Linked DNA regions of Homo sapiens. The protein of the gene in region 1 interacts with the protein of each later gene in a biochemical or structural test. Each region holds a gene or a part of one and is shown on either strand. Other genes may lie near its edges.

Region 1 (7,020 bases):
TCCCCATCTTTGTCAGTGACATTTGTGGACTCCAGACTCTTCCCACAGATGGCACAGCGGAAACAGGTCTTGTGCCAAGGCTGAGGGGCACAGAAAAGTTGCATATTTAATGAGGTAGGCAACACATTCTGTTTCCATTTCAAGTCCCTGACCAGCAGCATCCAGAGGAGTGACACGTCTTAACCATTTGCTTACCTAATGGGCCCCATAATTTCTCCAGGGGTTTGGAGAAAATGAGATGCTATGGCCTTAGCCAGCACTTCTCAGAAGCCTGAAAATGGATTTGTCATGGTGATTTGCATATGTTTTCCTTCAGAATAGACTAAACGGGAAAGGGCTTCCCCAGGCCAAAAAGATCCAAGGAACAAACTGGTCAGAGAAGGACTTGGGCTGGGGGCACTGGGTGATGTTTATGTTGAGTATAAAGTTACAGAAGGAAAAAAAATAAAGAAATCAGGCAATTGTTCAGGGAATTCAACCTTGTTTTAACTCTCTGGTTTAATTCCTCTGTGTAATTCTGAGGCAGAGTTGCATAATTTCGATGTTCTAGATCTCCATCCTCCTGCACATCTGCGTGTCTACCAGGTACAGCCCAGGGCTTCTCCTATGTCTTCAAATGGCCAGTTTTAGGGTGGAGCCTGCCCTTGTGTTTGAAGTTAGATGCTCCCCACGGCCCTTCCTCCCACCATGTGGTATAAACATAATTTTTCTCTTTCCTCAGGTCTGACTCCTTTGGTGAGTACCCAGGCTTTGGGCCTGAAACTGGAACTTGCAGAGCACATATGCATGAGTGTCTCGGACATCTGATGACTTTCCTGAGAGCCAGGAAGTTCGTAAGTGAGGATGCTTCTCACTACTGTGAGGCGTCTGCTATATCCATTGGTCATGGTGGCAGCAACAGGTTGAGTTAGGCAGTGGTTGGTCTGGGGCTGACATCTTTTGGGGGGATTGTGGACACTGGAGGGTAGACGGGCTTTTGCTTTGTATCCCAGAACTTTCAGCTGGGTGCCTTCCATCTAGTAGAATAATGCTTGCTGCTTCAAACTGCACCAGTTCCAGCTTTCAAAGGGCAATGCTAGATGACAGACAGCCCCAGCCTGGGAAAGTGGCTGAGGATGTGTGGTTTCTAAAGTTGTTCTGGGAGCTAGAGAGAATGACAGCTGCTTGCAGCTCCCAATTTTTCTCTCATTCCTCCCAAATGGCCTGGTGGAGATGAGCAAATTCTGTCTGGCTCATACAGAAGGTCTTACCTTGCCACCTCCCATAACCTTCTCAGCAGCATAGACTGACTTGCCACATCGAGGGCACTTCTCGGACTCTCCAAACTTCGCAGTGAATTTGGAAGGGTTGCTGGTGGTAACTGAGCGTGCCGGCTTTGGGGACCTGTTGGAAATAGACGAATGAATGAAACGTAGATTTCCCTTGGCAAAGAGTAGAAGAGCTGTGTGGCCTTGAGAAAGTGACCTCACTTCCGTGTGTCTCAGACTCCTCATCTGGAAAATGGGGATAATGATGGTGTCTTTCTCATAGCGTTGTTGAGAGGGTTAAATGAGGCGACATTTGTAAAGCACTTAGAACAGTGCCCGCCTGGCATGTAGTAAGGGCTAATAAATGTTTGCTAAAATGGGTTTAGAGCTTTCCTTTTTGTTGTGAAGCACTTAGCAAATGTTCTAGTTATGTTAGCTTGTGTTATTGTTGTTGTTGTGTTGTTATTACTACTGTGCTTATTTGTGTTTTTCTGGACCATTTGCAAGGCCACTTCTTTCCTTTCTAAAGAGAGTTGTGAAAATTACAGAGCAAGGTGGGATTTTGACAATGGGTGCTAATCAGTTCCTGATGAACCACAGTCCATGAGCTGATGCATTCCTTATCACAAGCCAGGCTGTCGTCCTGCCTCCAAGGGTCACCTGTCCCAGGAGAACAATGTCCAAAATAGAGACATAATAATAGCCTCTCATGTGTTGGTATCTTTTGGTGTTTGCTTGTATATTATATCACTTGAGCTGTACCACAACCCTATAAGGTAGGCAGGGCTGGTTGGAGGAGAGTGAGGATCAGAGTGTGACTGCCCAAGGCCAGGCAGCTCATGAATGATGGACCTAGGAGGAAATCCTAGGTCTTCAGACCTTGTTACTCTTTGTGCAGCATCACTAGGAAGCCCTAATGTTGAAAAGTGAACTTCAGTCAATGTGAGGCAGAGAATGCAGTGGTATGTTTTCTTCCTTAACAAGAGTCTCCATTTGAGATTGAGTAATAAGACAAACTAACAAAAAGAAGTCTTCTCTCTAAGATGACTAATCACACATCTCTCCACGTTTCCATGCTCTCCTGTGGCTTACTCTCTTTTGAAGGGATCAGCTGATTCCTCAGATGGCTGAAGTGCTCTCTGGGGGAGGCCCTCCATGGGACACTTCCTTGGTTGGGCTGGGCCTTTCTGGCCAGTCGCAGTGCAGAGCTCAGCCTGGAGGCCAGCTGGCCAGAGAGTAGTGTCAGGCCAGTGGCCATCAGACTTTCCTCAATTCTGGGCTGGAGGTCAATGTGGTTATCAAGAAAGTGGACCCAGGGGACCAGACTGGTGGATGGAGGTGGCCAGAGTGATGTCCCAGCTTCCCTAGGATAATGTGGCGGGAACTCTAGCACTGTATTGGCAACAGGCAGCCAGGGAACCCCCAGAAAAATCATGATTGATTGTTTACTCTGAGGCACAGCCCATCCTTGCAGACACACTCCCCCTGCCATGTGGACGTTTGTCATCTTACAATCCAAGGGAAGAAATCTTTTCATGACAGGCACACAAAGAATGGCCATTGCTGCCCTGCCATATTTGTGTGATTTACACAGAAACTCTCAACGGGGAAGAAAGGAGACTCCATGCAGTTTTGCAAAGGTCAAACAATGGAACATCTGTACATCCTGGGTTTTCTCTTGACATGCAAACCAAGAGCCATGGTGTAAAAGTAATTGCCCTTTAGAATGGCAAATAATTTAAAGAGAGTCTTTGGAGAGATGACACATTGTTCAAACTTGGTCAGACTGAGTATTCCTATTGTTGGCAAGTCAACAATAGAGTCCATTCTCCCACTTCCAGAAAACGTTGCTATGGGAACGAAATGAACTGTCCTGATAATTGGAGACTTTAACAGGCAAGGGGGAGCAGGGCAGTAACTCACTGTTGGAACTGCAGGCCGAGATGCTCGCCCGTGTCTGTGCTGAGACAGCCAGCGCCTTGTCCATACCCGATCCCTTTGGGGCCATATCTGCGCCCATAGCACACCTTGCAGTAGATCTCCGACTCATGAGCCGCGACTGTCGTGCTGTCAAGAGCCTTCCTGCAGGCCACTGCCAGGAAAAGGAAGGGTCATGGGATTGGAATTGAAATCCTTCTCCCCTTCTTTGCACTCCCAATGCCATGCTCGGGGCCAGAGACCCAGCATGAGGGGCCCCTGAGCCAAGAATACAATGTTGATTCCTGACCAGAGTATCTGCCCTGAGTTGTGCACTCCAAGACAGTCCCGATCTCACAGATGACAAAATTGGGTTCAGTGGTTCCCAGCTGGAAAAGGGTGGAAGCTAGCATTAGAACGAGATATATAGTCTCAGACCTGCTAAGGACTGCATCCCTGAGTCTTCCCAAATGACATCAGGGAAGTGTGTGTGTGTGTGTGTGTGTGTGTGTGTGTGTGTGTTTGTGGGCGCGCGCGTTGGCAGGGGGTGGGTTAAGGCAGGAGAGAAACTTACTTTTTTCTTAATCATAAAAGAATCAGGATTGAGCACTTTCTGTACTTACCACAGCCTTTGAAGGACACTGTGATATTCAAGCAGACAATTGCCATTGAGGCTAATTTTGGTCAAATTCTGGAAGCAGAGGAGGTGGGGAAGGGGGTAGACCTGCCTTATTAACTCCTTAGGCTTCTATTGGCTCAAGCCCCCTGGTTACTGTATATTACCTAATGTAAAGTATCCTCCAGTATAAGGCAATCAAGCCCTCATTTTTCCAAAGAGAGGATTTATAGAAAGATTTATTTTGCAAATTTAAAAGGAAACTTTTAAAGATATAAATAAAAATGTCAAATATCTACTTATAATTTTAATTTAGTAATATAAATCAACAATATATTGATTTGGAAAGGTTACTTTTTTCTAATCCCACATAAATTTGGGGAATAATTATCTCCAATTCTGTCTTTGCATCTTCAACATCGGCATCTCCCTCACCACCAGAATCATTTCTGGGGGCAGCTGGCCCAGCTTTTCTGAGCAGCTCACTTTCACTTCTATCTGTACGTTTAAAGAGGCAGCCCTGTTTTATACCTGAGTAGGAGGTTGTCACCTAGAAATTGCATCTCAACAAGAAGGACCTATTAGCATAGCATTAGGGCAGATTTTTTAAAAGATATAGAATTTCCACCATGTAATGACTTGCTACATTGCTTTGCAACAATGATTCTTAAAGGTTGTTTATAGTGATGCTCAGTGCTTATAATAGGGAGATAATATCCCCAGGAATAATAATATGTGTGCATTAAATGTATTTGCCTTTTAAAAAAACATTTCCATCAAATGATCCCTATAAGCAATCCAGCATTGAATGAGGTTATTTCAGGCTAATATGCCTTCTTCAAATGATATTATCTTTTTTAAAAGATAAAGTAATTGAATATGGGAGTGGAGGAAGAAGATAAGGTTGTAGATGAGGTAGGATTAGCCAGGGGCTGATGAGTGTGGGGCAAGGGAGTTTATTCTGGGACTTTATTTGACTATTCTGTCAACATTGTATGTGTTAAAAAATATCTGTACCAAAAAAAAGTTTAAATCAGTAAATAAAATAATTGGAAGAATGTCTTACAGCAGGAGAGACTTTATAAGGCTTTAAACACAAGGCATATCTTTTTTATGAAGATGAATTTGGGGGGAGAATGCCTTATATTGAGACATAGAAGGTGTGTACACTTGTCTCTACCCTTCTTGTTACTGTCAGTTACCAACCTCCACAACAACTGCTTGCATATTTGCTGATGGTCTAGACTCTGAGTTCCTTGAGGGCAAGCCTGTTTTGTCTTAATATTCCGAGAATTTAGCACAAGGCCTGGGCCAGAATTAGTCCTCTGTAAACATTTATTGAGTACATGAATGAATGAATGAATGAATGTGTCAATGTAAATCAGTGAGTTGTTCACAATTATACAATAGTAAGTTGCAGAGCCACGGCTTACCTCAGCTCTTTTGACTCCTAGTCCAGTGCTCATTCCCATCACTCCAAGACTGCCTATACCCTAAGGTGCCCTGGCCAATTCTGTAGCCACTCCCTGGCTTCTGATGAGCTTTTGTGAACAGACAAAGGAGAACTGTGCTGTCCAGTGCTGTGGCCACAGCCACATGCTGTGCTGTAAGCACAAAATGCACATCAGATTTCAAACACTCAGTACAAACGCAAAAATCATGTAAAATATCCCACTGATCATTTGTATATTGAAGTATACATTGAAATTATAATGTTTTGGATATATTGAGTTAAATAAAATGTTTTAAGATTAATTTCATCTGTTTATTTGTACCATTTTTAAACTATGGTTACTAGAACATTTAAATTTACATATGTTGCTGCATTATATTTATTTCTTTTGGACAGCAAACTTACTTTCTAGATTTCATGATTAGTCTAGAGATTTAATTGTGAAGATTTATCTAGAAGTCAGGGGAACACTGGCCTGGGCACAATGTAAGGTAGACCCTGCGTCTCTGAACGCCTTTTCCAGCAGCTACAGAGTTGCCTGCGGACAGACAGGTGATTATCTTGTGGTAATAATATAGAAAAGTGTGCTCCTCTCTGGGGCTCTTCTACCCATCGTTCCTGAAATGTATGCTGCTCAAATCCTCATCCCATCAAAGGGTTCTCAGGAAATATCAAAGGGTTAAAAGGGATGTACCAAAAAATGCTCAAATCTCTTCTACTATAACTCCTTTGAACAGGGCATCTTCCTCCTACCTGGGAAAGACAAGACACCCTCTACTAAGGAAAGCTTCCCTACAATTTCCTGTTCCCACGCAGTTACCAAAGTTGATCAAAGGAGAATACAGGCCTAGAAGGCTGGATTTCCATATCAAGACCCCCCAGTTTTCTCCTTGTAACAACCTGTGCAGTAGGTATAATCATCTTTGTTTTATAAGTGGAGAAATTGAGGTTCACCATGGTGAAATGACCTGCCCAAAATCTCAGTGAGTACATGGCAGAGCCCAGACTCAAACCCGAATCCCTTTTACTCTAATTCTAGAATTCTTTCTAATATTCCTAATCCTGTTTTTTAAAGAATGCTAGCTCTCTTTGGACAAAAGCCCCAACAGATGGAGTCCAGCCCTTGGAGTTCTTTTCAATTGCATGGATGCCTTGCAGCTACCGGGCTGAAGCATGGGGGTGCTGGCATGGCTGTGGGGACTAGTCGGGGAGGGGGCTCGCCAAATATCCAGCAGAGCTAGCCCTTAAGCCAGACCTCCTGGACAGAAGCAGAGAAGATAAGTGGCCATTTTAAAACCAAGGCCAATTTTCTCCCAAACAGGACTAGCTGCCAGGAAACAGTATAGAATGCAGTCATGTCAAAGAGCACTGGACATGGAGTCTAAAGGTAGAGGTTCATGTATAAGACTCTATCGCAGATGCACATGACCCGGGCTTAGATGTGAGAAATGACTTATCGAAAGTCACGTGAGTCAGGCAGGACCAGACTCACAAGGTCTCAAGGTTCTCAAGGTTCTCAAGGTTCAAGCCACAAGGTCTCAAGGTTCTCCCTATTTTTGACATGTGTGAGTCAGTGTCTGGCGGGTAATGGTCAGGATTTCTTTCATGCAGTTACTGGTGCCCAGGCCCTGAAATGCTTCCCTCTCTGACTCTTACATACAGAGTTGGCATGTGTTGCCCCCCTGCCTGACATAGGTTCTCTCTCAGACAAGACCAGTCACAGCTGGCTTCAGTCACAGCTGACCAGAAGGGGCAACATAGACAGCCAAATCCATCCTGGCTTCAGA
Region 2 (7,987 bases), on another chromosome or scaffold:
GCCATGGAACTCCAGGAAGAGTGTGGGCGCCACTAAGCAATTCAGCTTGCTGTACCTGTTGCAGGCATCCATCATGACTTCATCCAGGAACTCTGGATCCAGGGAGATGGCAGGCCAGGTGAGGCCTGGCCTTCCCAGGGGGCCTCTTCCAGGGAGCCCACCCTGACTGCCCCCATCCTCAGCTCACCAATGCGGGCTACGGGCACTGCAGCCTGGAGGATGTGTACAGTGCTGTCCACAGCAGCCTGGACACTGGGGAACGCACACGTGGCGGCCACTGTGGCCTCAGGGGCAGGGTGCAGGCGCAGGGTGGTGGCTGTGATGAGGCCCAGCGTCCCCTCGGAGCCCACGAAGAGCCCCGTGAGGTTGTAGCCGGCTGCACTCTTCCTACGTCCCAGGGACACACAAGGTGAGTACCAGGCTGTGTGATGAGGGATTTCTGGCCAGAAGCCGAAGCTGGAACCCAAGACACCGACCCCAGGCACTGAGGTCTGGGCTGGCCTCCCTCGGGCCCAGTTTCCCTGGCCCAGTGCTTTCTGCTCCACAAAGCCAGTCGGCCTCAGGCAGGGAGAGCAAACCCTGGTCCCATCCACTTTGGCCCAGCTGACAGGGCTTCAGAGCCTGAGGAAGCCTAGCCTGCCAAACCAGGGGGCCGCCAGGAGGTGCTTTTCACAGCCCGGTCTCTGCAGGGCAGCCCGCCAGCAGTGCCCAGGGCCAGAGCCCGGGCCCCCCGCAGAGGGCGCTCACCGGAAATGCCGGCCTCGGCCCGCCGTGTGCAGCAGCCGCCCGTCGGGCAGCACCACCTCCAGGTTGAGCACGTTGTCCCGCATGGTGCCGTAGCGGACCGCGTTGGTCCCCGACGCCCCGGTGGCCGCCATGCCACAGAGAGAGGCGTCCGCGCCTGGGTCTGGAGGGCGGCGTACAGAAGGCAGCCTCAGGGACCGGAGGTCCTTTCCCTCGGGCTGGGGGAGGAAGGTCCCCTGAACCCCAGACACAGCCCTGCTCCCACGGTGCCCTCAGGGTCCCAGGAAAGGTTCGCGAGTCCTACCCACGGGAAACCAGAGGCCGCTGTCCCGCAGGTGGGCGTTGAGGGCTTTGCGGGTGACACCTGGCTCCACCACCACAGAGAAGTCCTCCTGGTTCAGCTCCAGGATTCGGTCCATATGCGTCAGGTTAACGCAGACGCCGCCCTGGTTGGGGCAGGTGCTAAGACCACTGCAGACCTGGGTCTCTGACCTGGCCACGTCCCCGGACCACACCCCGCGGGTGTCCCCCCAGCAGCCAGACCAGACCCCCAGAGGCAGGCAGCCCACGGGCGGGAGCAGACCCAAGGTGCCGTGTGTGGCGGGGGAGGCAGCCACAGGTGTGCCAAGGTGTGCTGGGACCATCCTCGGGCCGGGCGAGGGAGCCCCACTGTACCTGCACAGCACAGACGCCACCCTCAAGCCCGGTGCCGGTGCCGAATGGGATGATGGGCACACCTTGGCGATAGCACAGGGCTGCCAGCCGGCTGACCTGCTCCACGTTCTGGGGCCACACCACAGCATCAGGAGGTTCGCACCTAGAACCAGACCCTCAGCGATTTAGCGGGGCGTGACACCCTCTGGTCCCGAGGTGTTGCAGGGCCTGAGGCTACAGCAAGCGAGGGGCAGAGAACATGCCAGAGCACCCCAAAACAGATGAGTGAGGAGGAAGGCAACCCAGCACCCTCTCTCTCAGCTGGGGTTGAATCCAGAAGACAGGGGAGGGGCCCGCGAACCCTCCCATACCTGTGCACCGACTCATCGCGCCCGTGCTGCTCTCGGACCACCGCGGCAGTGGACACGTGGGAGCCGCCCACCACGGCCTTCAGAGCCTCTACGAAGTCCCTGCAGAGCTCTCCCTGCAGGGAAGAAACACACTGCCAGGGTCCCCCGAAAGACACATGGGGCCACAGCCCTGCCCCAGTGTCGGGGGGAGGGCTGGGGGCTGGAGGCTGGAGTGAGCCTCCCCTGCGCCCGCCCCGCTGACAACATCCTTGCCAGGTGGGCCCACTTTAAACAAACCCACTATCCAGAAATGCCTCTTTTCCAAACAGAGCCATTGGGGGTCAAAGTTTCCCCTCAGAAAAAAACGCCACCAGAATTTTTTTAATGTTTTCTTTTTTAATAAAAACAGGGTCTTACTATGTTGCCCAGGATGGTTTCAAACTCCTGGGCTCAAGCGATCCACCTGCCTCGGCCTCCCAAAGTGCTGGGGTTACAGGCGTGAGCCACAGCGCCCAGCCATCCAAATAAAAAACCAGAATTCACTCTCCAAAAAGGCTATCAGCAGGGTTCCTTCAATAGCCAGCCCAGCCTGAGCAACCGAAAAGATCCCTCACTTCCTCCTTTCTCCAGGGCCAACCAAGCACCACCCCAGCCACAGGGAACTCAGAGCTTGATAAGGGAATTAGGGGGAGGAAAAGCTTCCACTGCCCCCTCCCCACTCTACGTTGCCTGGGGCTTCTGGGCCCTTCGTGGGGGGCGGGGCGCGGCGGGGCGGGGGATGTGTTTCTTCCCATTTTACAGATGAGAAATGGAGGCCAAGTTAAGGACAGAGCCTGGCCTGGAACCCAGGCCCTTTCCTTCAGGGCCTTCTTCCACAGGTGTGTTTTATTCCAGGGGCATCCATTTGACTCCCCCAGCCCCACTCATGGTAGCAGTGGGGACTCAGCTGATCTCACTCTACACCCACCCACAGTTGCCACAGGGTAAGCCCAGTGCCCTTTTGCCCAAGGTCAGGTCACTTGGTGCTGGGGCGTCACAGAGCCCAGGAAACTTGGGATCAGAACCCCCTGCTCCCCGCTCCCCACCTCATCCCTCCAGAGGACTTCTCTTCTCTCCCGGTACCTTTGCCTTCTGGGAGCAGTAGCCCCTCCAGGGGAACAGCTCCCAGGTTGCAGACCTGAGCAGTCGGGCCATAGCCAGGCACTGGCCAGAGGGTGTGAGCACTGGGTGGCAGGGTGACCAGTCAGCTACTGTGGCAGCAGCTACTGCTGCTGTCAGCCCATTGGCTAGGCCAGGGGTGGGGCCTGCTTAAGGTGGCACGGGCTTTAAGGTGGCCCTTGCAGATCTTGCAGACATTTTCGTGGGCTCCAGGGACGACACTTCTAAAGGAGAGGCGAGGTTCACTGGACGTTTTGGGAAACTGTAAGGCAAAAATAAAATTCTAAGCCTCCCAACCGACTGAATGGACCTCCCTCTCAGCCCAGGGCATTCCAAAATAAACCTGAAAAATTAATTCAGGCTGTGATGGGAAGAGGTTTAGGACAAGCCTCATTATCCCCCTCCTTCCTTTAGAATTCAGACACAACTGACCAGCATTAACATTAAAACAGAGACCTTAAGGCATTCTGATCTTAAGACACAAAACAGACTCTTTGTAGCAATAAGATACCAAATTCCAACCTGACTCTAGCATCACCTGACAGATAGCAGGCCCTGAAAGAAATCAATGTATTTTACCCCCAAAATATATTCCTCTGATTTTTTTTTTAAATAGCTCCAAAAAGCTGTCTTTTGTGGGGAAAATCTAGAATCTGTAGAGAATCCCCTCCCCTTTCCAGGTTTTTTGTTTTGTTTTGTTTTGTTTTGAGACAGAGTCACTCTGTGGCCCAGGCTGGAGTGCAGTAGCGTGCTGCAACCTCCACCCACTGGGTTCAAGCGATTCTCCTGCCTCAGCCTCCCAAGTAGCTGGGATTACAGGTGCCTGCCACTGTGCCCAGATAATTTTTCTATTTTTAGTAGAGACAGGGTTTCACCATCTTGGCCAGGCTGGTCTTGAACTCCTGACCTCGTGATCCACCTGCCTTGGCCTCCCAAAGTGCTGGGATTACAGGCATGAGCCACCGCGTCCAGCCTCTTTCCAGGTTTTATCCTGATCTAAGGGAGATTTAACTAAGAGTCTGGCACCTTTTAACGCCTTAGACATTTACCATCTATGTTACATAATAAGAACCTTGGGCCGGGTGCAGCGGCTCACATCTGTAATGCCAGCACTTTGGGAGGCCAAAGTGGGAGGATCACGAGGTCAAGAGATAGAGACCCTCTTGGCCAACATGGTGAAACCCCGTTTCTACTAAAAATACAAAAATTAGCTGGGCATGGTGGTACACGCCTGTAGTCTCAGCTACTTGGGAGGCTGAGGCAGGAGAATCGCTTGAACCCAGGAGGTGGAGGTTGCAGTGAGCTGAGATCGCACCACGGCACTCCAGCCTGGCGACAGAGCGAGACTCTGTCTCAAAAAAAAAGAACCTTGGTCTCCACAACTCCTTATCTTAACCCAGATGCTTATTTCTATTGATTCCAGGTTGTCTTTTTTAAAATTTTTTATTTAAAAAAAATTTTGTTGTTGTATACCAAGATTCCAAGTCTTTGGATAATAACTTCTTTCAACCAATTGAAAATCAGAAATTTTTTTTTTTTTTTGAGATGGAGTCTCACTCTGTTGCTCAGGCAGTGGCGTGATCTCAGCTCACTACAACCTCCATCTCCTGGGTTCAAGCTGTTCTCATGCCTCAGCCTCCCAAGTAGCTGGGATTACAGGAGTGCCACCATGCCCAGCTAATTTTTGTATTTTTAATAGAGACAGGGTTTCACCATGTTGGTCCAGGCTGGTCTCGAACTCCTGACCTCAAGTGATCCACCCGCCTTGGCTCCCCAAAATGCTGGGATTACAAGTGTGAGCCACCGTGCCCAGCGCCAATCAGAAAAGTCTTTGAATTCACCTATGACCTGTAAGCTCCTCCCTCAATCAGAAGGAACCAATGCATACCCTGCTTATATTGATTACTGTCTGATGCCTCCCTAAACTGTATAAAACCAGTTGTAACTCAACTGCCTTGGGTACATGTTCTCAGGACCTCCAGGGAATGTGTCACAGGTCATGGTCTTCATGTGAGTGGTGGGAAATCCATACAGGTCTACATAAAACTCAATGCTTGCCTCATCAGAAGAAAGAATTCTACTGAAGAGGTCTGAAAGGGAAATATCTTGAGCCCCCAAAATTACTAAGCTAAAGGGAAAAGTCAAGCTGGGAACTGCTTAAGGCAAACCTGCCTCCCATTCTTTCAAAGTCACCCCTCTGATCACTGAGCTAAATGCATATCTGATTGCCTCCTTTTGAGAGGATAATTAGAAACTCAAAAGAATGCAAACATTTGTCTCTTATCTACCTATGACCGGGAAGCCCCCTCCCTGTCTTTCCAGACCCAAACAATGTTCATCTTACGTATGTTGAGTGACGTCTCAAGTCTCCCCAAAATGTATAAAACTAAATTGTGCTCTGACCACCTTGGGGACATGTCATTGGGATCTCCTGAGGCTGTGTCACACCATCATCATTGGCAAAATAAACTTTCTAAATTAACTGAGACCTTTCTCAGATTTGGGGGGTTCATATTTTGGTAACCACAGAAGAATTCTGACTGGAGGCGCCCCTGACCTTTGACAAAGCTATCAGTGCTTGGTACCAGCTTGAGCTATCTTTATGGCTCAAACCAATAGGACAATTTGCTGAGGCCCGGAAGCACACCCTCCAGAGAATACCTTATCTTTCAAAATCTGGTCAAGATCTAAAGTTCATTTTGTTGTACAACTCCTCTTTTTTTTTTGGAGTTTTACTTGCTTCTAACACAAGGAAGGCAAATTTTTCCTGCTTCCATGTTGATGGAAGGCAGGTAACTCCTTTATGGTGTTTGAGCTCGCAACCAACAGGGAAGATGAGGGTTTTTCCCTGCTTCTAGGATGGTAGAGAGCAGTCTTCAGCCTGAAACCCATCCCTAGGTAAGTAACTGAATTGGGGTTTGTTTTGGCTAAAGTTAAGATTACAACCAGCTGGTCTTAATTTCTCCTTACCACTAGAAAGCTTAGTAATCATATAAATTGTGTGATCATTTGTTTTGCTTAACTGTTTTGTTGTTGTTCATTTCTCTTTTTGTTGTTCTTTCAGTCTTTTTCCCATTGGGTTTGATCAACTCTATCTGACTTGATCAAATACAAAGGAAGTCCCAAATTATGGGGAACAAGGCCTCTGAAGTGGCTAAATTCACACACACACACATACACAAAGGATGATGTGATAGGGGGTGAAAAACAGCCAGCAAAAGGAAAAAAAAAAGGAAAGATTTTTTATTTTGACTACTAAGTGGCTTTAGTTACACAACGAGGCCACCTTTTTGCTAGCCAGGCCAAACTGAAAGAGCAATGGCTGTGCTTCTGAAATAGCAGCAATTTGTCCTAGCTGAAATATGGTAATGAGATTTTAAAAGATTTTTTTAAAGGAGCTCAATGATTAAAAGTCAGCTTAATTAAAAGCTAACATCGAAGATGTGCATGTGTATGTGTGGTGTGTGTGTGTGTGCGCATGTGCGTGTGTGTGTTTGTATTTAAAAGGACTTCATGTTTTTGTTTTTGTTTTTCTCCAAGAATCTTGTCTTTTTTTGAGCGAAAGTTTTTTTCTTCTCAGTTGACTGAATTCTGTTTTCTTCATTTACTTCGGCTGTATCTCCTTTCTCTTGCACCCTCTGCTGCATGAGGGACCTAAAATAGTTTATAATAGCTGGGGTTCCTTAAAGAGAACAGAGAAGGCACCAGGCTCCCTTTAAGGGAGAAACCTGTTTTTTCTTATGCAATCCCCAGAGTGTAAACAGGCAAGTTCGTCTCGTCTCTTCAACTGCTTACTTTTGTATTGTTGTTACCTGTTTGTGGTTTTTTTTTGGGTTTTTTTTTGTTTTTTTTTTTGACTAAAATAGTTATTGCAACAGAGGTTACCCTTGGGTTTTTTTGTTTTTTGTTTTTTGTATTGTTTGTTTGTTTGTTTTGAGTCTGAGTTTCACTCTGTCGCCCAGGCTGGAGTGCAGTGGCGCAATCTCGGCTCACTGCAAGCTCCGCCTCCCGGGTTCACGCCATTCTCCTGCCTCAGCCTCCCAAGTAGCTGGGACTACAAGCGCCACCATGCCCAGCTTGTTTTTTGTTTGTTTGTTTGTTTGTTTGTTTGTTTTGTATTTTTAGTAGAGACGGGTTTCACCGTGTTAGCCAGGATGGTCTCGATCTCCTGACCTCATGATCCGCCCGCCTCAGCCTCCCAAAGTGCTGGGATTACAGGCATAAGCCACTGCACCCAGCCTACCCTTGGGTTTTTAAGGAAGACTATGGTTTAGACACTTAGAAATGTCTTTGTTTAAAAGAAGTTTTTTAAAAAGTGCACTGTAAAAGCATCACGTGTTCTAACCTCATAATAAGTGTCCCTTCTTGGAGACCCAGGATTCAGTGTGGGCTCTGCCCAGAGCTCAGAGATCCACTTAAAAGGTAGTCCCTTTATCTAAATAAAACTAGTCTCCTTATACAATCCTATGATAAATTTCTTTTTTGTTTTTTTTTTTTTGAGACAGAGTCTCGCTGTCACCCAGGTTGGAGTACAGTGGGGTGATCTCTGTACTCCAGAGAGTACAGACATAACTGGGACTACAGGCGCCCACCACCACGCCCAGCTAATTTTTTGTATTTTTAATAGAGACGGGGTTTCGCCGTGTTAGCCAGGATGGTTTCGATCTCCTGACCTTGTGATCCGCCCACCTCGGCCCCCCAAAGTGTTGGGATTACAGGAATGAACCACCACACCCGGCAAATTTCTTTAATTTTATGTTTGATTTGGCATTCATCTTTCATCTCCCTCTGGCACCATCAGACTTTTTCTCTCTGTACCTTATGATGTAAATTTTGCTATTTGATTTTCACCTGAGTTGTTTCCTTTAATATGCAAACATAAGGCTAGTTAGCTGACAACTGCCTAGGGTTGTGAAGCAGGTTATCAATAATCTGAGTGTATCCATAAGATGTACTTCTATCAGCATGCCTAATACGTCTATGTATTTATGTGTTGTGTACACAATGCTTCACTACTGAAAATGCTTAAAAGAGCTCTAATTAACTGGCTTAAGAAAATAAAAGTGCTCGAATGAAATGCT

The links.
Region 2: the proteins of CSRP3 (region 1) and LDHD form a complex in vitro, tested with the Homo sapiens proteins (one study listed by BioGRID).

What each region holds. Positions count from the first base shown.
Region 1 is NC_000011.10:19,184,966-19,191,985, forward strand, and holds part of CSRP3 (cysteine and glycine-rich protein 3), read right to left. Parts: intron 3,340-7,020; coding exon 3,171-3,339; intron 1,384-3,170; coding exon 1,251-1,383; intron 81-1,250; coding exon 1-80. UniProt on the Homo sapiens protein: Positive regulator of myogenesis. Acts as a cofactor for myogenic bHLH transcription factors such as MYOD1, and probably MYOG and MYF6.
Region 2 is NC_000016.10:75,113,779-75,121,765, forward strand, and holds the start of LDHD (probable D-lactate dehydrogenase, mitochondrial isoform 2 precursor), read right to left. Parts: upstream 3,003-7,987; 5' UTR 2,943-3,002; coding exon 2,871-2,942; intron 1,883-2,870; coding exon 1,770-1,882; intron 1,562-1,769; coding exon 1,420-1,561; intron 1,191-1,419; coding exon 1,049-1,190; intron 908-1,048; coding exon 748-907; intron 457-747; coding exon of another isoform or gene 388-456; coding exon 188-387; intron 93-187; coding exon 1-92. UniProt on the Homo sapiens protein: Involved in D-lactate, but not L-lactate catabolic process.